Linked DNA regions of Homo sapiens. The protein of the gene in region 3 interacts with the protein of the main gene of each other region in a pairwise test. Each region holds a gene or a part of one and is shown on either strand. Other genes may lie near its edges.

Region 1 (7,028 bases), on a different chromosome or scaffold from region 3:
ATCTGCTGGCTGCTGGGTGTTCTCCTGGATGGGAGAGAAGACATGGCCCCAGGCCCAGAGAAATGAAGTGCTCAGGAGGACATGACCCGACCGAGTACGCGATGAGAGACGGCGAGGACTTGGTGAATCCCAGCAGGCAGGGACTCAGAGAGTGGGAGGGTGAAGAGTCATTAAGATGGCAGGTTTGGGTGTGTGAGCAAATGGAACTGACACCCTCAACAGATGAAGAGAAACTGGAAGAGTCTGCTCTAGGGGGAATGCGAGCAAACACGGCGCTTGCCATTTCCAAGCTCTGCGGGGCCTGCCTCCCAGCTCCAGAGGCATGCACTGCTGCCACAGGATCTACCATGCTGTGTGAGACAGTCGTGCCAGTGACTGTGCCCTGAAGAGCTGCGCCCTCACGCCCTGGAGCAGCTTCCATCTGATCTACCTCTGGAAGCCCAGGGCACTGCACATGGCGGTGAATAGTTACCTTCTGTTTCAGAAAGAATAGGTTCCCACAAGCCATTTTCTAGAAAACATTAGGTCTCTAGGTTTCTTTGTGTCCCATGCCCAGCACAGCACCTGGCCCATGGGAGGGTAAAACAAACGTTTCCTCAAGGACTGAATGCCTATGTGTCCAAATGACCTTAATGGAGGTCAGCTAAAGGTAGCAGTCAACACAGGGAACAAAACTTGTTTCATCTTTTTTTCCAACATCCTACAATCTACAGTCCCAACAAGAATGAGGAGACCTAGTTGTCTTCAGCCTAACCCAGCACAATGTGCAGCCTCCAGGTACGCCAAGCTCAAGGTGGTTCACTGTGAACTTCATTCATGAAACGGAAGACATATGCTAAGTTTGGACTCATCCTTAGCAAGGCGAAAAAAGTATTGTAAGAATTCACACATGAAAATGCTATTTTTCTCTCAAAGAACTAGAAATCTGTTTTCTTGAAAACGATTTATCCTAATTTATTCTGAAGTCTTTAAGTTACAGACATCATTAGAGGCTTCTCTCACAAGTACAAAAGTATGTCTTATTTCCAATAAAAAAACACTGTGTTGCAGGTTTCCAATTATTAACAATAAATAAGAGTATTCCCACCTGAGAGAAATGTTTCCCACAAATGTTACATTCAAAAGGTTTCTCACCTAAAACAAAACAAAACAACAACTTGTAAAATCATTACTAGTATTTGTTCAATAATTTTTTGTTTAAATGACCTCCTATGTACTTTCAAAATGGCATTACATTCTGCATCCTAACAGTATGAAAATAGGGAGTGTCTACTTCCTTATATTTCTCTCTTGCCTTTATTTCTACACAGAGATGATAAAAGTAATATTTTCCTCTAAAAACTTAAACTGTTCTCCAAACAAAACTTATGTTAAAATCAATGTATTTATTTGCATCCAGAGCAGACCCACGTTCTGGAAGTGGTCTTTTCCTGTGGTTGAGTTTTCCTGCTGAACAGCACGATCCCGCTCACCTATTCTTCAGCCTGATGCCACCCAACCACCAATCCTAACAGACACAGGGTCACTGGTTCACACCACACAAGGTATGAGCACAGAGAGCCCCAAACACAGTGGGTCGTCCTGAAGCATGAGTGTGAAAAGGAAAGAGCCCCTCACCACAGTCTTCCTGCCTTGGTTCTCACGAGAGAAAGTAAGATTTCATTTTGGGAGATGTGCTCCTCTGCGGACTTCTTTATCACCTCTAATTTCAATAACTAAGTAACTGCGCTTGGGGACAGAACAGATTCTAAGAATGGTACTCTACTACAAAAAAACCACAGCTGTTCTGAAATGTGGCCTACAGAACATGATCTGAATTTAAAAGCACACTCCATGGTACTGCCTTTAATCTATATAACGCTAATGAATAGACTTTGAACACTAAGAACCTCTCATTTTCTCCATTTCCCTGAAATCAAATGGTTTCATTAAGATCTTCTTTAAAAAGTAACAATAATGTTTTCCCTTCCTACTATATCGTTGGGGCTTGCTACCTTGAAGAAAGCAGCTTGCTAGCTTTCTGGGCTCATTCTAGGATATTTTAATTTTATTTTATCCTGAAAATGTCTAATGGCTTCCTTGACCCTGAATAATTATATTTATATTAATAATAAATTAATAATTACATTAATTCTGTATTGCAATAAATGAAACTACATTTATGTCTGAAATTATTGGGGGTGACAGATAATAAGTTAAAGCCCCCATAAGAAATATAAGAATTTGAAAAGAGAGAGAGGTCACCAGTTACTAAGACTAATAAATGACCAAGGTTAACAATCCTACTCCAGTAGGCCTCAGACTTTTTGGCCTCAGGACCCCTTCACCTTAAAATTGAGGTCCTAAAGAGCTTTTGTTAATATGGGCTATAGCTATTGATATCTACCATACTGGAAATGAAAACAGAGTGACCTTTAGAACAGGTAAATACACACTTCACAGGCCACCAGGGTGAGGACTTCATCACACATCATGTAGCTTTGGGCAGACTAACTGTACACTCATAAGAGGAGGAAAAAACAACTAACATCTTAGACAATTTTGAAAATAGTGTTGGCCTCACAGACCCCCAAAAAGGGTTCCCCAGACCATACTTTGAGAATTGCTGCCCTTCTCGGTAGAATATTTATGTGCCAGTAAGCATCTTTGCCATGACTGTATCTGTCATTCAAAGAGGTTCTCCCAGAATAAACAATTTTTGATTCCTTTAAAAGCTAAGCAGGTAAGTTTCACAATAAAAAATTACAGCCATCGGGCCAAGCGTTGTGGCTCATGCCTGTAATCCCAGCACTTTGGGAGGCCGAGGTGGGCAGATCACTTGAGGTTAGGAGTTCAAGATGAGCCTGACCAACATGGTGAAACCCTGTCTCTACTAAAAATACAAAAAAATTGGTGGCGCATGCCTGTAGTCCCAGCTACTCGGGAGGCTCAGGCAGGAGAATCAATTGAACCCAGGAGGCAGAGGTTGCAGTGAGCCGAGATTGTGCCACTGCACTCCAGTCTGGGCAACAGAGCGAAACTCTGTCTCAAAAAAAAAAAAAAAAAATTGCAGTAATCATTAGGCTGTAGGAGATTTAGGCAAACAGAATCATCTAAAGTTTTTTCAGGGCAAAACTAAGTCTGTGATATTGCCTTCACGTGGAATAATTTTGAACTACTAGTGATAATAACAGTACTTTATATTCAAATGCACTAAAATGTATAAAGGGCCTTCACAATTATCAAAGAAATCTCCCAATAATACAAGGTCGTAAAATGCAAACTGTGAATCCATAGTGATAACAGAAGGTCACATCAACAAACACAATTACACAAACACCGTAAAAGCAGCTGCTGTGGAAGCATCCTGTTGCATGTTACTTCTCATGCCTATAAGGTAATTGTTGTTCATCTGTAATGTGCTATTAAACTCATGTTTAATTATAGGAAGAAAAGTAATATATATGTATTGTATAACATAATGTGTGTGTGTGGAGATATATATATAGAGAGAGAGAGAGACACACACACAGAGAGAGAGAGAGAGAGAGAGAGAGAGAGAGAGAATACCTTAAAAAAATCTTTTGGGAAAGAGAAAGAGGCATGAATTAAGATAACAAAACTTTGAAAATTCAATGTTTAAATTGGAAGAATTTTCTTTTGAGAATATCAAATGGTTAAAGCTGATTCTTATTAAAAAGTTTACTTCCTGACTCCCAAATTAGAATTTTAAAAATTAGACACTCAAATTCCTTCCAAGAGAACTTGTAGAATCATTCAAAGTATATTAGGTTAGTCTAAATTAACCTATATGATGCTTTCAAAAAATAAGCTTAATCTAATTCTAAAAAGACAACTAAATATAGCTTATCCATTTTAGAATTAATTTGAAATTCTGGGTGCACCAAAATTACTATACTTTCTTTAGAGACAGATGGCTTGTCATATAAAAATGTAGTTGAAATAAAAATTAAAAGTATGCACCTTTTTAAAGTGACTTTATAAAACCATTTACAAAACTTTAAGTCAGATGCATCACCAAAAATATAAAACAAAAAGTAGTTAATCCCCCTTATTTTGTTTAAAATCATCAATGACATCAAACAACAGCAAAACTTCTTACAAAAACAAGAAGAGCCAGTGGTGTCTGAGCATCCGCATTACGTCCTTCCCTTCTGCCTGTGGGTACTGAATCAGTTACCTGTATGAGACCGTTTGTGAAGCTCCAAGTTGCTTGGGTGTTTAAAAGGTTTCCCGCATAATTCACACGCGTATTGTCTCTGGGACTGAAGTGTCTGGGACTGGTCTTCCAGGGCAGCCGGGTCTTCAGGCCTCTCCGTCTCACTAATGCAATTAAAATTCTCACAACTGACGACTTCTTCACTTTCTTTTTCTTCAGCACTTTGGCTGCTAGCTTTCTCTAGGGTATTTTTACTAGCAGATTCCAACCTCTTTGTCAAACCATCATCTGACTTGGGTTCAGATACTTGCTCTGCGTATTTCTGTGACTTCAGGAAATTGAGCTTCTTCAGATGAATGGCCTTTTTGAGCCTCATCTGCTTGACAGGTTGTTGGCATGTGGCGTCTGACTCAGGGTGTGGGGCAGAGTCATTCACAGGCTGGGCCAGGAAGTTGGAAGGTAAGTGCTCGGGAGACTCCAGGATGCATTCAGAATGACTGACGGCACAAGGCTGGCTCTCTACCGTGGTAAGGTCTGTAGAGGTGCTGAAAGCAAAAGGCTGCTCAACAACTCTCTCCTGACTGGGACCAGCTGCGTGTTTATGGTACTGCTTACTGTAAAAGTTTCTGAGTTTGTAATAGTAATTTGGCTGTTTGAAAGGCAGTTCTGTGCAGCTGCCATCTGAAGTATCAGGAGCTTGTTTTGAGATTTCACCTGCGGAGTGATGACGATTAACTGATGGTGAAGCATGCGGATGCGATTCATCCAACGTTTTGTTCTGCTGTGCATCTGCTGAACATTCCTGCAGTAAATGAGGGGGGTAGTTTTCACTGATAACACAAGTGGCATCTGGGGTCAGGGTGCTTTGTAGAGACAATGTACTATTACAAGGCATGCCAGGTGGCTGTACTACAGTGGCTGATTTTAAAAATGTGTGACACAGACTCAGAACATTTTGAACTTGCAAACACTGTGCTGTGTCCAGCATTACTTGTATATTGTCCTGGTTAAGATCTAGATGAGAAGTGTACATGAAGTCCAGGATCTGCCCTATGCCACTGACATTTTTAACATCCAAGTGAAAAACATCATTCTTCTGGCTTGAAGAATTCTGAAAGAGGCTCCTGGTAAAAGAAAGAATATCTGTTTACAGTGCCAAAAATTCACACCATCTTTTTCTTATAAATAACATTCATATATTAATATTAAAAAATACTATCCTTCTGTGAATGTCAAAACTTTTAACATAAGTACATTTTAATCCTTTAAAACAACCTGGCAAACCATCCAACTAAATAATTCAGATGAATTAAATTGGTGGATTGGGTATGCAGACTTCAAAATATATCTCAAAGTAAATTTTGAAATATACTCAAATTTACACAATAAAAAATTACATACATTTATATGACTGATAAACCACAAATCAAGAAGTTTCTAAGATAATTCCCAATATGATCTAAGAAATAAAAGATTGCTCTAAATATTTTTTCGAAAGGTAATTATCCATATATATTAAATACATACTAATAGAGTACACAAAATTAAATAATATATACTTTTCACTATTTCATAGTCTGACAAGTATTATATTTTAGGCCATAAACCATATACACAAATATTTCCACATCTAAGTGCCTAGAAAACTTAAAAAAAAATAGCTAGAATAAACCAACCCTCCACATACATTCCTTTGTAACCAGTAATTTATTTGGCTGTTAGGTTTTTCAGCCAGCCAGTGGTTCAAAAACCAACAGTGAGAAAAACCCTAAGAGTTAGTGAAGACCAAAATGCACTCTAAAGCCCAGGCACTTTATTCTGGGTACAAGCCAAGGTCACAGGTGAACAAATTTGTATTATGTATGAAATAATAAGCTCAGGTAAGTAAGTTGAAGACATTTTGTCAAATACAATCACCTATTTCCCCCAAACAGCCTTCAGTTCTGTTTTTAAGCGCAAAACAGCCTGTGTATCACAATATCAAAATTTAACTGTCCTGGGAAGACAGAAAAAACAGGTGATAGCAAACCCAAGAGTTTGCGACCATTTTTCCTAGGAACAAAACCTGCTACCTACCTTAAGAAGCTGATTCATTACAATGTGTAATGTGGTCTATACAATAACTGAGACTCAATTTGATGATTCAGGATTATCAAGGAAAGAGCAAATCATGTCCCACGTTGTCTACTAGAGCAGTAAAACGGTATGCATTTTGGAAACAAAAAGTACTTTAAAAAAAAAAGACTTTGTATTTAAAGAGAGAGAAACCTGCTAACAACAAAATGAACTTATGCAGAATCACTTAACTCTAACAATTTTTTTTTTTTTTTAAGAGACAGAGTCTCCCTCTGTTGCTCAGGCTGGAGTACAGTGGCATGACCACGGCTCACTGCAGCCTCCAACTCCTGTGCTCAAGGGATCCTTCCACCTCAGCCTCCTGAGTAGCTGGGAATACAGAATAATGTTTAAATAAGCTGAAACACAACTTCTTAGTATTATTATTTATAAATAAATATTTCATATAAGCCAAAATGATTATAAGGTTTTCTTAGAATATTCAAATGAGAAACAAAAACTAAAATGCTTTAATTAAGAAAAAAAAGAAAAGAAAAATCCAACACCAAATATGTTTTTCCCCTGATTTCTTATCACAGAAAAATTCTGACCGGGAACTTAATTCCTCCATCATTTTATCTTGAAAGGATAAGAAATATATGTAGAAGACTGACATTAGCCAGAATTAGTAAAATGAAAGACAAACAACCAAAATACTTTCAATCATCCCAAATTCATTTTACTTAAGAGCCTCTTTTCTTTTCAGGTTACTCTAAACACAAAAGCAAAAATAATAAAAATGGTTAACAAACTT
Region 2 (7,028 bases), on a different chromosome or scaffold from region 3:
GGCTCTGTTGCCCAGGTTGGAGCGCAGTGGTGCAATCTCTGCTCACTGCAACCTCAGCCTCTGAGGCTCAAGCCATCCTCCCACCTCAGCCTCCTGAGTAGTGAGGACTACAGGCACATGTCACTATGCCCAGCTGATTTTTGTATTTTTTGTAGAGACAAGGTTTTGCCATGTTGCCCAAGCTGGTCTCGAACCCCTGAATTCAAGTGATCTGCCCACCTCGGCCTTCCAAAGTGCTGGGATTACAGGTGTGACCCATCATGCCTGGCCTGGTTTTGCCTCCTACTTCTCTGGCGAGTCTGTCTTGACTTCCCTGATAGGTCCCAAGGCTCTGTGTATAGCCCTCTTTTCTCTGCACATTATACACTCCCTGGGTTACAGACCTCATCCATTCCTGTGGCTTCCGTTAACCTCTCTGGGCTGAAGGATTCCTGAACTGCTATTTTCAGTCAGACCTTTCCTAAACTCCTGACCCATAAAACTGATGAACGGCCCCTTGGCCATCTCCATCTGGATGTCCCTCAGGTATCTCACCTTCAACATTTCCACACCTCAGTGCCTCACCTTCCTCTTCAATCTGCGGCTTCCCACTGTGTTCGCCGCCTTAGCTGATGGCCAACTGGCAGCAGCCAACTGGCCACCCTTGGCTCCTCCTCCTCTCCTCAGTCAACCTTCTAGTAGTTTCTCCAGCCCATGGCCTCCCCAGCTGTAGCTTGGGCTCCCCAGCAGTCTCCTTGTTAATGACCCTCTCCCTTCTCATCCATTCTTTACACAGCTGCCCACGGCATCTTTGTAAAGTGAAAATTTGACTGTTTCTTTCTTGCTTAAAGTCTTTAAAAGGCTCCTTACTCTCTACCAGAGAAATGCAAACTTCTGTGCCTGGCATTTTAACTGGGCCCTGTTTACCTTACCTACCTTGTCTCTAGCACTCTGTCCTTGTTTTCCCTCTGCAATCGAGCAGTACTGACCAGCTGCAGTTCCCTGAGCATGCCAGCCTGTTTCATGCCCTGTACTTTTATACATTAGGTTTCTACTGCCAGCCCCGCCACTCTGTTCACCTAGCACTTACTAACCCTTTGAAGGTTTGCTAACTACTGTTGAATTAAAACTACTGTTGAATTAAATTAGTCAATACAACATTTCCCCTGACTTTGTGGGCTCTGGGAATGGTTCAAGTGAACATGACAAGGGCCCATCCTCAAAGAGCCTAAATCGAGTAAACCTGGATGGCAGCTTTGGTCAATGGAACCAAGAGCATCAGAAACTATAGTAGGCTGGGGCTGGGGGAAGGGGCGACAACAGCTGCAGGAAGGAATTCCTATCAACCCCTAAAAGGCAGTCAGTGGAGTGAAGTGACGGAGGAGGGGGAGACAGGGCTTCCATGTATGGCTGATTGTACTTCAGTCAGCAGTTGCCTTCTGTTTTTTGGGCCAAGAATGCCATCAGAGGTGCCTCTCCAGGGAGACCAGAGATCAAACAGGCCGCGATGCTCACCCTCCCTCAGCGGCATGGTCCCGTCCCTTGCGTGCTTCACTGAGACGGACCTCGCTCTTTTGGCCCTAGCTGCGTGGCAGTCATTCAAGCTGCAGGATCTAGAACTGGGCTGCCTGGGTTTGAATCCTTGATTCTCTCTCCCCAGCTGCATGACCACAGGTAAATGACTTAATCTTACTTTGCTTCAGTTTCCACATCTGTTCAATGGAGGCCGTAATAATAGCTAGCTTTGGAGGGTTGTTGAAAGGGTTAAATTGATACACATAAGCCTCTGAAGACAGCGAATGGCACACAAAATGCAAAATGCCAGCTACTACCATGTCTCCTTTCCACCTGTCTACCAGGCAGAGAGCTCCAAGAGGGCACATTCGGGTCTGGTCATAGCTGTGCACTTGAATCCCATCAAGAGGCTGGAATGGAGTAGAGGCCTCAGTGTACACGTGAGTAACTGAGTATGTGACCTCTGAAGGACTGGTCTCTTCTTCCTCAGCAGAGGTTCAGGGGCAGGGAGCAGCTGAAGGGCTAGGAAGATACAACGGAACGGGCAGGGGCAAGGAGGCTGGGCCAGGTGGGGAAGGCAGTGAGCAGCTGGTAGGAGATCTGGATCTGGATCTTCCTGGCTTGGTACCTGATGTGCTGTTCGGTCTGGAGGAGTCCCCTCCCTGTGGCCTCCTATGACATGGGAAGCAAACCACCTTTTTGTTTTCCTAGGGCTGCAGGAGACTAGGTAGAAAGGTGAGCTGGACTCATGGCCAGGTGCTAGCTAATATAGCCCCTGCATGAGAGAAGAGAGGCCTCATCCCCGGTTCAGTCCTTGGCTCCTCACGCTCTCTTGATGGAGCAGGGCCCCTGAAAAGGTGGAAGTCATCTTCTTCCGTGATCGTAAGCAATCCCTCGCCTGGTTCAAGGTAAACAGTGGTATGGGGGGAGAATTGGGGCTCTGGGATCAGACATATCTGCAGCCCAATCTTGGCTCTTTACACAGCAGCTGTGGCCTTAGGCATGTCTTTTATAACCTCTCTGAACCTCAGTTTCTTCATCTGTAAAAAATGAGCTAATTTCTCCCTTGCCTGTTAGGAATTTTTCTACCTACCTTGTGAGGATTAGTGATAATGGCTGTAACGTCTTTAGTACAGGTCTAGTACACAGAAGGTACTGGATAGAAGTAAGCTCTTCTCTCCATTTAGAACTTACCCCTACGAGCAGGGGAACTGGACAGTCTGTGAGAACCCTCAGATTCTCAGAAGAGAAAGGCTCCATGAATCAGAGTATCAGCATCTCACCATTAGCAGCAACAATATTAGCATTTTAAAGAACTGCAGGAGACAATGTTTGGCACACAGGGAGGAACAAGAGCTGTCTGAGGCAGAAGGATTTTTGGGGCTTCTCTGATTCAGCCTCCTCGTTTGTCACATGAGATCTCTGATGCCTAGAGATGGGCAGTGACTTGCCAAGGCCACAAAGCCAGTCAGGAGCAGAGCTGGAACTAAAAATTCATGTCTCGCTCTCATGGCACCTCTGCCATACCATGTCTCTCTAGAAGGTGGGCTGAGCAGCCACACAATTTCAACTCTTAGGCAGGGCTGGTCTTCGCTTGAGTGCCCCACCCAGGCCCTAGTGCAGAGGGGCTAAGTTGCACCTACTGGATGAATGAATGTACACATGCGGGAGCAGGAAGCCGAGGAATGACCAGCTAGCCTCTGGGCCCTTGCTTTCTGCTGTTCACAGTCCCCCTTATCTCCAGGTGTCCCCCCGCTCCATCCTGGCCCAAGGTGACTCACCTCATCAAACAGCTGCAGCATGATGGTGAGCACATCTGGATGGGCCTTGTCTACTTCATCAAAGAGCACCACAGCATTGGGGCACTGCTTCAACTTCTTGGTCAGCTGGCCACCCTCCTCATGGCCAACGTAGCCTGGTGGAGACCCAATAAACTTGGCCACCTGGTAGAAGGAAGGAAACATGCTAGGAAGGCCTTTCTGTGCTTTTAGTTTCCAACATGGGGCATGCATGGGAAGATGACTTTATACGCTATTAAGGTTGCCTCTCTCAACAGAGATGATTGGCTGTCCATCTCCTGGTGTGGCAGATAGATCTTCTCTATGTTTATTCTTCAGAGCAAATCCTATGTGAAACAAATCAGTGACCCTGCTGCACACCTGTGCTCCCAACGACAAATCCCAAGGCTGCTGGAATTATCTGAGGCCCAAATGACAAGACCCCGGCAGTCATGCTGACAAGCCCTCCAAACCATGCTTCAATCAAGGACTGTCATCACTCACCTCGTGTCGCTCCTGGAACTCGGACATGTCCAGCCTGATGAAGCCCTGTGTGGAAACAAGCAAGTACCAACTCCGTTTGGAGGCAGGAAAGTGAAGAGAAGGGTTAGGGAGGAGAGCACCTCAACTATCCCCAAGGCTTTCACACCACACCAACATAAGATCTTCTATCTCACGCTCAAGATGTTTTTTTCTGACTTCCTGTCTCCTTTTCTGTGCACTCATTTCCTACGAGTCCCTCATTCTCTTCCTTAAAAGACCCAAATCATGTACCTGACCTTCTAAATCTGACTTGGGGTGTCTTCTTTCAGGGAGGCCTCTCCTGTTCTGATCACCACATCATCCACCCACCCATCCATCCATTCCACGTTTCCTGAGGGCATCCTGTGTGTGCTGGACACCGGAGTTACAACAGGGAACAAGTCTTGGTCTCTGTCCTTAAGAAGCACCCCATCGAATGGTGCAGACATGGACAAAGTCAGTCACGATCAGTGTGGACTGTGGTGCGAGGGAGGAGAGAAACACTCAGATGGCTCCAGAATGCCTCTCAACTCTGCAAGTCTGTGTGATGCCCGTGTCCCTTTGATTTACTTTTCTTCAAAATGAATATATTTTAAAATGTATTTACATTTCTTCATTTCATTAAAAAAGATATCCATAACATAGCTTTACAGCCCTTTTCTCTCCACCACAGGGTGTAGGGGTGATTTCCGAGGAAGTGGCCCCATGGGTGAGGGCCATGGTTAGCCCTTGGGGAAGAGAACAGCTTGCATTATGTGATCTGAAGAGTTAACACAGGCAGAGTGCCCACTGGTTTTCAAGAAGCATTACCTGATTAGGGAGCTGTAAAGGCATCCACAGGTGCCCTGTCTAGCCACAGCCAGGACCACAGTTCCCCACAGTCCCCCGGGCTCCTCTCCTACTGGCACATGCCTCCATCTAAGAGACAGCATTCACTGAATCCTGCTTCTCCTGAGAGCCGGTGATGATGGGGGTGCCAAGATTCTCAGCGGGAGGTAGCTATGTCTGAAATCCAGGGCTATATTCTAGCTTGGCCACTGGTCAGAAATTCACGCCATGATGTACTTTTAGTTCTTTCTCTGTCCTGTCATTCTACAGCTGAGACACAGGGTGGCAAGAAGAACCCTGGGCTGGGAGCCAGGGGGCTCGGGTTCCAGTCCTAGTTCTGCCTGCCTGTGGAGCCTTGGACATGCTGCCTCCCCTTTTTGAGCTGCAGTTTTGTCCTGTGTTACAGAAGGCTCTTGGCTCCTCTCCCTGCCTCACCAGGGGTCTGAGGATCTAATCCAAGAGGTGGGACAGGGCTTAGAGAAGTTATTAAGGCCACATGGGGGAAAGCACTGCTATCAGCACATGGGGCATAAGCCAGAAAGCATTTCCAGAGGGTCCCTAGGCTGCTCAGTCAAGAGATCTGCAGGTTTCAGGATTTACTGGGTATTTACTATGTGCCTGGCAATGTTTTAGGCAAGCTATAAAGGGCTTAGAACATGTACAAGTCTCTGAGGTAAGCACTACTATCATCTCCACTTTACAGATGAGAAAACTAAGTCACAGATTAAAGTAACTTGCTCAAGGTCACCTGCGCTTGGCAATTCAGCTCCAAGTCTGTGCTCTTAGCCATCATGCTACACTGCCTCATAGCTTCCTCTCTGCCAATCAGCTGGGCTCTTGACAGTCTTCACCTTGAAGGGTGCTGAGCTTTGTGTCCAGATGCCAATGAATGTCGGACGACAGATGGACTATAGACTCTCGTGCTTACTTATGTCAAGTGACCTGGGTTCTCACCCTAGTTCTTCTAATGATTTGCTATGTAATTTTGAACAAGTTTTTGGGCTTGACTTTCTTGGCCGGAATCATCATTTTGATTTCACATGATCTTAGTGAGGCAAGAACAATAAGAGTAACATCCAACATGTACTGATTGCTTACCACATGCCAAGAACGGCGTTTAACATTTTACATCACTATCTCATTTAACCTTCCGAACAATCCAGTGAGACTGGCACCATTATGGAGCCTACTTTACAGATGAGAAAGCTGATGTAAACAGAGGTCCTGGCCAACTCCACCTAGTAGAGTACAGTTGGGATTTGAACCCAAGCAGCTGGACTCAGATAGTTGTTCTTTATCCCTTATCATATTGCTACTATAACTAAGTCTTTTGGGCTCCACCACCCTACCTTATGATGATATCACAGAACACCATTAAGGTTCCTTCCCAAGGCTTATTAGCTCTAGTAAGGAAAGTTAACAGAGCCACTCAATTTGGAAGAAATAGTATACAGGCTAATGAGAGAAAAAAATAAGTTCACAGATCTGATAAAGAAATCATATAAATGTACAAAGAATGCTTCTGAAGCAGCAAGATCTGGAGGTGTCAGTGTCTCTTTACAAATGAAGAAACTAGGGATCAGAGAGCCAGAACTAGAATTCACATCATCAGACTCCAGGCCAGTGCTCATTTCATTTCGTCAGCTGTCTTGGGAGGCAAATTAAAGGGAGCTTCTGTTTGGTAAAAGTCTATTTTACACTGGGCTCTGAGAATGACACTTTCCATACATCACTCTTTGGGTCCCAGGTACACTGGCTACGTAGCTTAAAGTCCAGGGCTCTCTTGGATTTTGAAGGCAGGTCTCAAACATGCCTGTCATGTGGCTATAAAGTGTCTACGCAAAACACAGATTCTATAATGAGTTGACCCACAGGGCTAGCACAGGCAGGAGTTTCATAGAAGCACCACCTATGATTTAAAAATAAAATACATGGTTGTTTTTATGGAGCTTCTCATGCCTCTCATCTCCCAATGTGAAATGGGGACACACTGGCAAGTTTCCAATCCAGCTTCCTAGAGCAGCTGAGAACAACGGTATCACAGTGAGGAGTTGAGAGACTGGATTGATTCTGGTTTTATTTCTTCCCCTAATAGGTGACCTTAGATAAGCCTAAGAATGCTGTAGGGCCTCAGTTTTCTCATCTGAAAAGTGGGTCTAATTTAGCATCCATGCTATCTTCCCCATAGGATCAAATGGGAGAGTAGATGGGGCACTGCTATGGTAAGTAGGAAGTGACGAATAAATACAAGTCAAGGAATAGGCACTTGCTGTGTGCTCACCATGATGTGATGACATAAGTGATGAGCACACAGCATCGTCACTTGATGCTCACCATAACCTAAGATATGGGTTGGAGGGCTTTCACCTTGAGGCAAGAGAGCTGAAACTTCAAGGGGTAAAGTTT
Region 3 (6,445 bases):
TTTGATGTATGTAATTTTGGAAATTCTCTGTTAAAATATCCTTTTATTTCTCTTTTGCAGATAGTTCATCCTCATTGTGTGTGCTAGTAAGCACTGTTGGAAAACTCTGTAGGCTGATTAATGAAGATGTGAATGAGCAGGTTATGCAGGTATTAGGACCTGAAGACCTCCAGAGGTATTTGTTTTAAAAGTTTACAAAGTATCATCCAGAATGGCTGGGTGTGGTGGCACACGCCTGTAGTCCCAGCTACTTGGGAGGCTGATGTGGGAGGATCACTTGAACCCAGGAGTTTAAGTCCAGTCTGAGCAAGGCAGTGAGACCCTGTCTCTAAACAATAAAAATTAAAATAAGTATTATCGAGAGTTCCTGGAGGGGTGAAATTAAAGACTTTCAAAACTTATTTACCTTCCCTGTTTGGAATAGCATCTTTTGTGTGTGTGTGTGACTGTAAGCACACGCCACCACGCCCAGCTAATTTGTGTGTGTGTGTGTGTGTGTGTAGAGAGAGAGATAGAGACAAGGTTGCACCATGTTGCCCAGACCAGTCTCAAATTCCTGGGCTCAAGTGATCCGCCTGCCTTGGCCTCCCAAAGTGCTGGGATTACAGGTGTGAGCTACCATGCCCAGCCTTGGAATAGCATCTTTTAAGTAACTTGACAATCTAAGATAATCTCAAACCCTTAGGGATGGAGGAAATGCCAAATATTTTCAAGATAAAAATAGATTGTAAGGCCTATAAAGAAGGTCAGGTACTCTTCAGCATAAGCCTGTTTTCAGGAAATATTATATATGGAGAAATTCAAACCTTGTTAGCAACATCATGTAAGTTCTGATTATATCAATAAGTTCTATTTTTAGGACACTACCATAGACCACTGAATAATCATTAATAGTATATTTATTTGATTAGAAGATAAATGTTGAGGAGTTTTTAAAAGACTAGGCATCTATAACATAAAAGCTGGTATTTTTAGAAAATATCAAGACATTGTAGCTATAGTTAAAGCAACTTTCCCCACACCTGACCCCCAATTTTATATTACAGCATATGTGAAGGGAAACACACAATATATACCACATAAACCATATGTTTTGCAAGTTTTCCTAGAAGAACCCTTACATAATCTGACACTTGGTGCTTTTAAAAGGAACATATATCTTGCTATTGGCCTATTTCTTCCTTCCCACAGTTTTACTGACTACTGATTTTTTTTCTTTTTTTCTTTTCTTTTTTTTTTGAGACAGAGTCTCACTCTGTTGCCCAGGCTGGAGTGCAGTGGCTCAGTCTCAGCTCACTGCAACCTCCGCCTCCCAGGTTCAAGCAATTCTCATGCCTCAGCCTCCTGAGTGGCTGGGGTTACAGGCATGCGCTACCACACCCAGCTAATTTTTGTACTTTAGTAGACGTGGGGTTTCACCATGTTGGCCAGGCTAGTCTCGAACTCCTGACCTCAAGTGATCCTCCTGCCTTGGCCTCCAAAGTGCTGGGATTACAGGCATGAGCCACTGTGCCCAGCCTGATATTTTTTCTTAATGTTTAATAGGATACTGGGTGTAAAAGCCAATTATTTTTAGAAAATGCTGTAAAAGCATGATCTAAGAAGCCTTGAGCTTAATGGGAAATTTGCCATGTTAAGAATGTTGTATATTGGCTGGGCGTGGTAGCTCACGCCTGTAATCCCAGCACTTTGGGAGGCCGAGGTGGGCGGATCACGAGGTCAGGAGATTGAGACCATCCTGGCTAACACGGTGAAACCCCGTCTCTACTAAAAATACAAAAAATTAGTCGGGCGTAGTGGCAGGCACTACAGGAGGCTACTCGAGAGGCTGAGGCAGGAGAATGGCGTGAACCCGGGAGGCGGAGCTTGCAGTGAGCCGAGACAGCGCCACTGCACTCCAGTCTGGGTGACAGAGCAAGACTCTGTCTCAAAAAAAAAAAAAAAAAGAATGTTATATATGAATTTAACAAATTTTACATTGATATTGAAATGCTTTTTTAAGAAAAGTGATATTGGATTAACAAAAAGCTCAGAAAGAAAAGACTGTAGTAAATGATCATTAAGTTTATATTTAAATTAGCAATATAGTTTCTATTTTGAAAATGTTCTGTTTGCAATCAGATGCAAGAACCCAAAGTTAGAAATCAGGTTTAAATTGTGCATTTTTTAAACAGCATTATCTACAAATTGGAAGAACACGAGGAATTTTTCCCAGCATTTCAGGCATTTACTAATGATCTACTTGAAATCTTAGGTAAGATCTCTGGTGGTGATGGTGAAATTTTGAGTCTTAAAATGTCAGTGCATTTAAGAAAAGGGTGTTCCTTGGTCACTGGATTAGTATTTTTACCTAGTGGTTGGAAACCACTAACAGTTCTGGAAACACATTCCTTACAAGCAGTTAGAGTTTGTTTGGATTAGTCCATAGAACAGAAACACAGACCCTTAACAGCAATAGGAACTACCTTTGTTGGAGGACCTTATCATGAGAGATGGCATCATTCTGTCCATGCCTAGTTTAACCCTGGCTCTGTCATTGTCTAATGAGAAATATTCTTAGGATTTATGATCTTAGAAGGTCCTTCCTCCCTCCTTTTTTTTTCTTAAGATACCACCTATCTACAAAATTTTTTAAATATACAAATAATATTTCCTCTCTGGTTATATGAAGTAACATAAAGTCATAAATATCTGTGGAAAGGAAAAGATGAAATATTACACTTATACTGAGGGTCAGATTGAGGGCTTCATTAGTAGTAGTGTCTCCTAAAAGGAAAAAATTTGCTTAGGACTCATAAGGCAAAATAGAGACCTTATCTAGTTTAAATATAATTACATATGGCTATAAAATTATTTATCTTACTATTAAGAATGATTTTTAAAGTTTTAAAGTGATGTATTCACCAGTGAATTTTTTCTGTATAGCTCATTTGAAAGATTTTTTTTTTTTTTTAAAGAATGGCTCTTTGCTTTTAGAAGAGGAGATGAAGCTTGGTATGAAAATAAGGGAATGAGTCAATGAAAACTTGATAAGAAGAATAAGTGAAAGAAGTATCTAATTAGAATATATAGCCTACTGAACATAAAGGAAGTTTTGTGACCAGTCTTATGTGCAGTGGGGAAGCAAGGGAGACAATGAGTGAGCTTGCTTTAGGCTTGTCCTCATGTTTAAAAAGATCACAGCAAGTGAAAATGTAATTTGAAAGTTAAACTTGAGATGAGGTATGAAACTGTATAAGTGTGTTGTCTGATATCCTGAAGAGCCTGGTTTCATAGAATAATATGATTCTTGCTTTGGGATTGCTATTAACTTAAGCAGTGATGTTCTCATCATTCATAAATATTTGGCACATTAATAAACATATTTTAATAGGGTGTGCTGGTAACACTTATTTCAGAATGCTTCTATAGAAACTTCCTTTCAGATATTATGACACTCAGCATGGTTCATAAAGATCATTTGCTTCAGAAAGCCAGGTTTCTCTGGAGATGAATTCTGTAATTTGGTCAAAGTTGAAGTTCTGGTGTTAAACATTAACATTGGGAAAGTTAAATCTGGCAAACATGACAGTTTTTTTAATTAATAGGTGTCACTAAGCATGTAGGTGCAGGGTGGCATACTGAGTAACAGACATGGAGAGTACCTTTAGTGAGTAAAAAAACAATCCATTCTTTTTCTCATGTAAATGGTGTGATTGACTGAGGAAATTCCCATATCGGCCAAGGTCCTTTGCTGTGAGGTTCATTTGTAAGGCAGGTTTCTCACTTAATGAGAAAACAGGTGTAATTTCAGAATGGGCAGGGGGCGGAGTCAGGGAATACCTTGATCTTGTACCTTACCACAATGTAAGGGAATTGTAAACAAATTCTCTGTTGTAGGTTTGCTTATATTGTTTCTGTTCCCATATCTTGATGCTTTGTTAGTGGGTTCAGACAAGTATTCTGACTGAAGTCGGGAGCTTAAAAGAACTAAATGAATAGTAGGAGAGCATGGGCTATGTGTGTAGGCTAAGTGAAGAGCAACCAAGATCCAGCTACACAATGGAGAGAGTTGGAATCCAAGAAAGCATGCTTTATGTAAGGGAACGCGTTTATTAATGATGGCTTAACAGAATAAGCTAGAAAAAAGTGTGGGTATCTAGAGAACCTGCCATTGTGGCTTACCTTAAGTAGGGCTGGGATCTGGATAATGAGAAAAAGGATTTTGCTCCTTTGGTGGCCAGGAGCTTCAGAGAGTGAATTCTAACTTAGGCTGGTTGGAATAAGATAGTCTTAGGAAGAAAAATCAAATTCAGAAAGAGCCTGTCAAAAAAGAGCCTGGATTGGTTTATCTGGTAAGCTGGACCAGGCTAAGCTCTATAATATATTGTACTTGAGGTTTGTACACTCGATGAGGCTATCTTTTTGATTAGGCAGATAATTGTTTTTTTTGAGACATAGTCTTGCTCTCTGTCACCCAGGCCAGAGTGCAGTGACGCAATCTCAGCTCACTGCAACCTCTGCCTCTGGGGTTCAAGCAATTCTCCTGCCTCAACTTCCCAAGTAGCTGGGATTACAGGTGCCCACTACCACACCCAGCTAATTTTTGTATTTTTAGTAGAGGTGGGTTTTCACCGTGTTGGCCAGGCTGGTCTTAAACTCCTGACCTCAGATGATCTTCCCGTCTCGGCCTCCCAAAGTGCTGGGATTATAGGCATGAGCCACTGCACCCAGCTGGCAGATACCTTTCATCTTAGAGTGATCCACTACTAAGAAATCTTCCCAAGAAAATTAAAGAGGACAAGACTGTTCTATGAGAAGAAATTCCTAAGTCCTCACGTGGAGACCTAGGGAGGAGACGCCTCTACCTGGGATTTCATCATGTAGATGCACCCGTGTAGTGATACAGATCTAATGAGACACTAACATATCACACATGTGGGCAGTTGGATCTGTTAATAAGGACATGCTGCTAATGAAGTTAATACTAGAATCAGAGGGTACTTGTGGGTATGTGGTAACTTATATAAACAGAGCCCCTGTGAAGCATCTGTATCCGAATCAGTGATAATCTATCATCACTATCGGAGAAAAACTTCATGTGCACAAAAGCACCAGTATTATTGCCTTTATGTTTGGGGTTTGCCTTTGCATATAGGTTCTTGTTTCATGTGAGTTTACCACTAGAAAAAGTTACTCTCTTTTATTATTACTGTTTTTGTATTACAGAAATTGATGACTTGGATGCCATTGTACCTGCAGTAAAGAAATTAAAAGTACTTTCATACTGAAAACAAATCAAATCATTTTTACTGTGTAAATTGTATTCTTAACATTTTGTATTTTGTAGGATTGATCTTATTTTGAGACAAGGGTTGTAAAATGTATTTGCTCTCAGAATTCATCCCCTTCTTAGTATTAGGTCATTCTTCATCTGTATAATTTTTATTAACTTTGAGATTCTTATACAGAAAATAGTTGCAAGGGTAAGGTAATTAACTTTAGATCCCTTCATTTCTAAAGCAATTATTGAGTGCTTAAAATTTAAGGTTGTTTTAGAGTGGAGTTTGTGAGTAAAAGAGGAGCCCAGGGAGACAGATTGCAAGTAGTAGGTTGCAATCTTTTAGATTCAGCTTGTAATAATCTTTGAGCCACACCAAAAGGAATGCCAAGGGCTCTCTAAATTTAGCCAGTAGGAAGCTACTGCTCTCCTGGCAAGGATTAATTGGCACATTCTGTTAAGATATCCCTCATGACAGTTGCCCTTTCAAAGCAGGAGGAAGAAAAGGAAGAAAGAAAAACTGTTTCATCATTTCTGTTAGGGTAGGAAATGAATCATAGGGTAAAATGGATGAGTAGATAGAAGTCTCTCATTTAAAAAGTGTCTTTTGCAATCTTGATGTAATGCACTTTTTATAAGGACTTGAGATCTCAAATAAAATTTCTGTAAAGAATTTCCAAACATAAGTGTCCTCAGTGATGCTTGTATATTACTGACAAATAATGAGTCATATTCTCTTCCTAGGCTGAACCTTCCTTGGGCAACTTGTACATCCTTGCTGCATTTTATGTAAGAGTACTTTACTTGCTGCCTTCTGTTTATTCTGTATTCTCAATATGCAGTCACGTTTTCTTAAGGGTCAGCGTTCTGCCTCATACCCATAAGTACAAGTCACTTTGGACTATTCTTCCCCACTTTTATAAGCAGCAGGTCTAGGAAGATTTCTCTGTCATTCTTGTTGGTGGGCATATAGAATATTATAACACATTTCCAGGAAGCAGCATGGTGGAATGGTGAGTAAATGTCAGCAAACAAGCATCCACATCCTTGGTGTTATGACCTTAGGGATCAGACGTAAGATAATAGGCTCCTTCTAGATTTAAAATTCTTTGTCATGATAGCCTGCAGTTACATTTCTAAACACTAACTTACAATTTGTGGAAGACCTTGTGTCTTGAGGGTTGG
Region 4 (7,268 bases), on a different chromosome or scaffold from region 3:
TTTTTAAAAAATGACACTATGCTTTCCACTAAATGTTGCTATGAACCTAAAACTGCTCTTTAAAATTACAATATTCAAGTTAAAAATATTTTTTTAGGCTGGGGATGGTGGCTCACACCTGGGATCCCAGCACCTTAGGAGGCCAAGGTGGGAGGACTGCTTGAGCCCAGGAGTTCAAGACTACACTGTGCAAAATAGCAAGACTCTATGTCTACAAAAAAATAATTTTAAAAAATTAGCCAGGTGTGATGGCACATGTCTGTAGTCCCAGCTACTAGGGAGGCTGAGTTGGGAGGATCACTTGAGCCCAGGAGTTCAAGGCTGCAATAAGCTATGACTGCACCACTGCCCTCCAGGCTGGGCAACAGAGACCATGTCTCTAAAAAAAGAATGAATAAATAAATAAAATATATTTTTTCAACATTCAATACTCCTAAATTTTATTTTTTAAAAACTCCAGAATTTCAAGAGAACAAATGAGATACACTATCCCATCACTTATTCCACGTAATTCAGGGAAAATGAGCTATTGCATATATATGAATTTTCCAGGTAATAAAGATTATTCTCCTTCCAAGTACCCAAGTTCTATTTAATTCAACCTATATGGGTTGAAATCTAAAATATAATATATATATATATATATTTTCTCAAATAAAATGGCTGAATCACATTAATTATTTGGGGGAGACACAAGATCATTACTAAAAATACCTTTTATTGTACTCTACAGCCCATTTTTAGTTTTACTAATTCACTGTCAGCTTTCACTTCTGTTCCCATTGTACTTGCATCTAACATTTAATACTTCTAATATTGCTGTGGGCTAGAAACTAGAGAGAAAAGTTTAACTGCATATTAAATCAGAGCTGAGATTCTTAAAAAGTTTTACCTGGTGTTTAAGGGCCTTTTCTACTCTAAATCTGGAGTTGAATTAAAGCTGTTGGAAGCCAGGTTTCTGAATATTTGGCTTATTGCTTATTATGGTAAAAAAAAAAATTCTATTTTTGAAATTACTTTCCTGTAATTTATGTAAAAATAAAAATTATGCAATGGTCCTGAAATTCTTCTCACCTTTGATCTATACATTTTGACTAGTTTTAGCCTCCGAAGAAGGTCTTCTTTCTCCTGAACCTGCTTCACCAATTTGGCTTTTTCAGCGTTTAATCTTTGTTTAGGAAGCTTCTCACTCACAAACTCATTTTGGAGAGCACTGCATGATCCAGAATCAAGTGACTGAGATTCACAGACATTGAGATTCTTCAAAGTATTTTTCAAATTTGTATTTTCTTCAAATTCACTGTCTATATGTTTAAAACTTTCTTGAAATTCCAAACAGTTTTCCTCTGTGGAAGATGCTGGTTTCTCTGAAAAGGTCTGATCATTTTCTTCACTCTCTACTTTAAGACGTTTCACCACATTGTAAGAGGAATTAAATGAAAATCTTGTTTTCCTTAATCTTTCTCTAAGTGTTGCACTCATAGGCTATAAAGAGCACAAAACATTAAAAATGTGAATCAAGAAAAACATTCTTAATGTCAATAAATCACCAGAAATAAAGTCCTTCCATTTCTATGCTAGACACCACTAGATGGCTTTCTGTCTCCACATCTAAAGAAGGCATCACAAAATGACTTTAATTTCTGGAAGCTCCATTTGTTTTATTTCCTTTTTACTTCAGCAAGATCAACACCTTTCCAAAAGTGTTGAGAAGTTTATCCCAGTAATCAAGGAACATTTGTTCAGTAACAAGCACATGCCTGATAGTACTCCAGGTGCTTCAGAATTACAGAGTAAGGAAAAGACCTAGACTCTGCCACTAAAGACCTTCATAATAATATTGCACAGATGCAAACTTTCTCCATCTGGAGTATTGTAATAACCTAATCTGAAACTAACTGAAATGAATTCATTCAAGAGGAAAATATGGAAGGGGGCTGGTGGGTGTCATATATGTCACCTTAGAAGAAAAACAAAATTATTTAATAAAATGTCTACTTATTTATGCTACACATTATGTTAATTAACAACCTTCCGTAGAATTTAAACCACCACTGCCACAATACTTAGAAACACATAATGGATCCACTGGAAGAACAAAGATTTTCATACTTGTTTTCGGGAACTATTTGTATAGGGAGATGATGGATTCGCAGAGGCCTGAGGAGTGCTAGGTAAAACCACAGCTGAGTCTGACGGACTTTCCATCTTGAAAGTGAAATCTTGGTTTTTCTCTAAAAAAGAAAAATTATAAAATAATCGAATTAACCACACCTCTCTATAGTCGACTTTTATCAAATAATATATTGTATTGGTGTACAAAGCATCCACAAGTAAGCCAGATATTTCTTCTAATTTCACTTTGTAATTCATTCTTGCTCTTTTTGCAGTTTTCCATTTACCTTCCCACATAGGGACCACTAAGTTTTTCATGATACATCAACCAGCTAGTATCTCATAGTCACAAGACTCTCCTTGTTTTCGTTTCATCCACCAAAATATATTCAAATTCTGCCTTGGAAGTAGGGAAGAATAACAGCTTTAGATAATCAGGAATTCTTTATTATGACAGCTTCATAATTCAAGAAGCTATAGCCGAAACCTTGACTCAAAAACAATAGGACCTGAATGTCACCCATCCTGAACTCTACAAGCTGTGACTAGAACCCGTTACCCTGCCGGCCCGAGGCATAAGAAACACAGCGGAGACGCATTTAAGCCCGTCTGTAGCCTTTTAGTTTAAGCGGCCAACAGGGACTGAAAAGGAGAGTGGACTGAAATTGCTTCCTCCGACAAAGGCATTAACTTTTGAGGGGTAAACTAGGGGCGGGAGTCGTCCCCTCCTTCCCCCCGTTGCAGAAAGCCCACTAGTTCCCCGGAGACCCCAGGCATAAGGTGAGGTTGAGTTCCCCAGACCCGGAAAGGGAGCTCAACTCGACTCCACAGCCGACTCCCGGGGAAGCCCAGGTGTCAGGGATCCCCCCTTCCCCTCAGCAGGGTACCTCCCTCCGCCATTCCCAGCGAGAGCAAAAAAGCGCGCGCACCTGCGGCCGTAAATCGATCCTGTGGCAGGGGCGGGGCCGTGCGGTAGGCGGAAAAGATGCGCAATTGGCCAGATTGCCTGACGCGCGAGGCGCCGCTTCACTCAGCGACTCAGAGCGGTGGGACTGCGCGCGCGCCTCCGCCAGCGGGTGGTTGGGGCGGGGCTTGGCCCACACGATGGGAGGCCCAGACGCATGATTGGCAGAATTAACCGGTGCGCGCGGCTCTCCCCGCCCAGCGCCCGAGAGCAGCGTGAGTGCGCGCGCGCGCGGCCGCGATCCGCAGCAGGTCTTCGGGGCGGGCGAGGCTGAGCTTCGGAATGTTAAACCAATCCTGAGGGGGGCGCGCTTCCGTTCGCGGCTTCTGTTGCCTTATTTTCAACCGCCTTCCCTTCAGGCTTCCTTGTTTTTGTGCGTCTGTGAAGTGCGCCTGAAAGTGCCTCTCCCCACCCCCGCCAGCCCGCCGCCTCCATTCTCTGGCTCCAGTCAGTCTCCTCTCCCTGCTAGTCACAGTGAAGGCTTTACTCAGACGTGGGGCGGCCAGAAGCCGCACGGCTGGCTGCATGTTAGATTTACAGCTTGTGGACTCCCCAGAGGCAGAGACCACAAAAGAACAGCGTTGGTTGGGTTCCAGCCTATTCCAGCGTGGTGGTTCCAGAGACCACAAAAGAACAGCGTTGGGTTCCAGCGTTGGGGTCCACATTTCAAACATGTTAGAAATCTATCCGAGAGTCCCGGCACTTTAGCTGAGCTCATCGCTAGCTTTTTTGGCTGCCGCAAACTCGGCGGTCCCGTCGCGAGGTTTTTTGTTGTTGTTGTAAACAAAAAACCGTTTCTGTACCTCAGTATGCAGGCTCCTTAGCGTGACCTCAAATCTTTTACTCAAATCTGAGGGAAAATGTAGCCCAAGGAAATTTGTTGTGGCGCAACACAGGAAGCAGAACAATCACTACATGAGATTGTGTCGGTCCAAAATTCACGTTTGAGACCGACAGGGCCCTTGCTGGCTACCGGGCAGCAGCATCCTCAGTCGAGAAAATCCCCCCCCCGCGCCCCGCTTCCAGTATGGCGAGGTTCTGTTGCTACGCGACGACAAAGTTAGCTACATTGGGTGGAGCACTGGGTTTAGTGAAAGAGTTGAGTAACTTCTGAGTCACGTGGAAGTTGGGAATTTCCAGGGGCCAGTGTTTTCAGTCCTCTTATTGAATGGCCATTTTAAACATTGATATCGTCTCTTTACTATTAATAACATCTGACAGTAGTGGCTTAGAAGTGGCCAAAAGGGAGTTACCTGAGTCTTAAGCAGTCAGGTATAATAATTACAGAACCTGAGGACTACCTAAGGGAATGATTAGGGGCGTACACGTTACAGTCAAATTGTCTAGGTTCAAATCCTGGCACCATACTTTATGTGCTTCTTAATGAGGTGATTCTGTGCCTCAGTTTCTTCACCTCTTAATATGGGATTGGAGAATTAAATGAGAACTGGTGAGAGGCAGCTGGAACAGAGCTAGGTATCTAGGAAGCACTCAGTAGTTATTTTATATATGCAAGTGTATTCACCATTCCCTAATGGATTTAAGGGAATGTATCACCTTCAGTTTCACCCCTTGATTTATCTCCCACCCCCCAAAAAAGCACATATATTTTAAAAAGATGCTGTGATCTGTAAGATCCCACACAATATAAACCATAAATAGCAGAAAATGTAGAGCCTCACATATGATTAATAATACATATTTCACTCCTAAAATTTTTTAAAATTACATAAGTTAACCCCAAGGAATTTACAAAGGGGAAGAGAGAACTCATGATTTTGTGATAAAGGTGTTACTCACCTCACCAAGCTGCAGGTCTCAGTCTGTACATTTATTTCTCCCTTTACTCATCCATTGGCATCAGTTAATCTCAAAGAAAAAGCAGAATGATTTGTCCTGACACTAGAAGCACAGTGCAGACTCTGCATATTCTTTATACCTCCCGGCATAAGGGCGAGTTGTTTTTATGAGTCTCTAAAATCAGCAGCTCCCAAATCCTTTTACCGTTACAACCTAAGCTTAGAGCTGTGTTTTTCCTGGCTGCAGAAAGGAAAACAACATTTTGCCTTGCAAATGTTCTGACTTGCTTATTATGTGAACTGGTATCTTAAAATGGGATTGTTTGGCCAGATTTTCAAAGAACTTCAGAACATATACTCAGAAAAACCCGTATTTCAGAAATGTGCATTTGTTGATCTACATCTCTGGCTTTCATGCATTATTAGAACTGAATTATCTCCCTGTACAGAAGTTTGTATTTTACTTAACCTTTTCACATAACAAACTGGAAATCCAGTTTCCTCTCGGCTTCATGTCAGAGATCTGGAATATAGCCCCCATACTTTTAATTGTACCTTTAGATAAAGCATAGCGTACATTTCAATGTCTTAAGTGACTTCAAATCTATTAGCCTGTGAAGACTTTGGTGTTTCTGACACAGGACATTGTATGTTTCGTATGAAACTTTTCAGGCAGGAAAAAATACTGGCCCAGTGAGCCAGGAAGCAAAGACTCCTTACCCTGCCATAGAGAACAATTTAAGCAGTAGACTCCAATAATAATAGTAATTAATATCAACTTAAGTCAGGCTTTCCTTGTGTTTTAAAATTTCTTCAATACCCAAGGCTACTGTTGGCTACTTTGTTACTCATCAGGGAGTGGTAAAATGCTTCGTTCTTGTCTGTAATTATTGTTGGTGGGATGATGATATAGACCTAAAATCTTTATGAGGTTTTACAAAAAAATTTTTTTTATTCTTATTCTTGTCTAATGGCAAGAAAAGAATAGTAAATAGTCTCTCAGTCTCTCTCTCTACCTATACAAAAAAGCACAAACACACGTACTTTTTAGCCATAATTAAAATGTTCATTTTAATTTTTAAATTCTCAGCTTTAGTATTATTTTTTAATCTTAACAATAGTCTCAAGCTAACTTAAATTATATTACCATAGACTTTTCTGTATTGACAAAAATTTTTGTGTCATGTAGACATAACTAGTATCCATAGGTTTTTTTTTAAAAGAAACGAATACATAGGCCGGGTGCAGTGGCTCACGCCTGTAATCCCAGCACTTTGGGAGGCCGAGGCGGGCTGATCACAAGGTCAGGAGTTCAAGACCAGCCTGGCCAATATGGTGAAATCCTGTCTCTACTAAAAATACAAAAATTAGCTGGGCGTGGTGGTGGGCGTCTGTAGTCTCAGCTACTTGGGAGACTCAGGCAGGAGAATCGCTTGAACCTGGGAGGCGGAGATTCGGAGATTGCAGTGAGCCGAGATCACACCGTTGCGCTCCAGCCTGGGCGACAGAGACTCCTTCTAAAAAAAAAAAAAAAAAGAAACAAAGATAAAAATATACGCTTCTGAAACTAGGATTAAAATCCACTTGGGTGAGGAATTGTGTAAAATCCACATGATTCTGTTGATTTATGATGTCCATTAGGACAAATTAAACAAACTAAATTTAATACAAATTTATAACACAAGAAAATCTGCCAAATTCTCTTAACTGACTTTCAACACTTCTTATGACATTTGTACATAAGTTGAAAATGCCCTTCAAAAACTCTTCTATGAGTTTCTCTTGCCATGAATTCAAGTCGCATCTTATAGACCCATCCATGGTAAAGTGATGTTTTAGTGCTGTGTAATTTCATAAATTTCTCTTTGAGAATAATTGACAAATATTTCTATTTTTTTCTCTATTACCTTAACGATCTCACATGGAATTCCATAATGTGTAATGGCTGCACTTGTAGAGACTTTGTTACCAAACATTGACCTTTATGATTTAACTATTTCATATTCTTTAGCCAAGATATGCAAGAGAGGGTTTTATTATCAACTTCAAGAGAAAAGGGCCCTTGACATAGCTGTTAGGCATGCCGGAGCGATTGCCTCACTGAGTAGGATGGTTACTTAGAACACGGAGATACGGAGAGGATCAGTATTATTAGCACAATGAAACCTTTCCATCACCAGGCAGCTAGAAAATGTATCTAATAACTAATATTCAGGACAATGTACTAAACAAGAACCTAAAAAGCTCCCTTCACCTGAATTTCCTGTCCTTTTATTCTCCCAGATCTGGCATTTTGTCAAATCCATTAGAGACTAGAGAGGCAATAGTGTCTATGATTCACTGCTGTTACTGGGTGTGTTCCCTTGGAGAAGAATAGAGTGATTCAGGTT

Evidence for each region.
Region 1: the proteins of CEP70 (region 3) and ZBTB49 interact in binary tests that used the Homo sapiens proteins (3 or more experiments, as listed by UniProt).
Region 2: the proteins of CEP70 (region 3) and CLPB interact in binary tests that used the Homo sapiens proteins (3 or more experiments, as listed by UniProt).
Region 4: the proteins of CEP70 (region 3) and SFR1 interact in binary tests that used the Homo sapiens proteins (3 or more experiments, as listed by UniProt).

What each region holds. Positions count from the first base shown.
Region 1 is NC_000004.12:4,300,244-4,307,271, reverse strand, and holds part of ZBTB49 (zinc finger and BTB domain-containing protein 49), read right to left. Parts: intron 5,284-7,028; coding exon 4,181-5,283; intron 1,135-4,180; coding exon 1,088-1,134; intron 1-1,087. UniProt on the Homo sapiens protein: Transcription factor. Inhibits cell proliferation by activating either CDKN1A/p21 transcription or RB1 transcription.
Region 2 is NC_000011.10:72,298,528-72,305,555, forward strand, and holds part of CLPB (mitochondrial disaggregase), read right to left. Parts: intron 4,435-7,028; exon of another isoform or gene 3,822-4,434; coding exon 3,777-3,821; exon of another isoform or gene 3,438-3,776; coding exon 3,276-3,437; exon of another isoform or gene 2,206-3,275; intron 1,935-2,205; exon of another isoform or gene 1,839-1,934; intron 1,654-1,838; exon of another isoform or gene 1,436-1,653; intron 1-1,435. UniProt on the Homo sapiens protein: Functions as a regulatory ATPase and participates in secretion/protein trafficking process. Has ATP-dependent protein disaggregase activity and is required to maintain the solubility of key mitochondrial proteins.
Region 3 is NC_000003.12:138,493,840-138,500,284, reverse strand, and holds the end of CEP70 (centrosomal protein of 70 kDa), read left to right. Parts: intron 1-60; coding exon 61-175; coding exon of another isoform or gene 176-188; exon of another isoform or gene 189-401; intron 402-2,174; coding exon 2,175-2,254; coding exon of another isoform or gene 2,255-2,421; exon of another isoform or gene 2,422-2,949; intron 2,950-2,957; coding exon of another isoform or gene 2,958-3,022; exon of another isoform or gene 3,023-3,375; intron 3,376-5,208; coding exon 5,209-5,270; 3' UTR 5,271-5,941; downstream 5,942-6,445.
Region 4 is NC_000010.11:104,117,931-104,125,198, reverse strand, and holds the start of SFR1 (swi5-dependent recombination DNA repair protein 1 homolog), read right to left. Parts: upstream 3,029-7,268; 5' UTR 3,016-3,028; coding exon 3,003-3,015; exon of another isoform or gene 2,434-3,002; coding exon of another isoform or gene 2,235-2,433; coding exon 2,113-2,234; intron 1,486-2,112; coding exon 1,075-1,485; intron 1-1,074. UniProt on the Homo sapiens protein: Component of the SWI5-SFR1 complex, a complex required for double-strand break repair via homologous recombination. Acts as a transcriptional modulator for ESR1.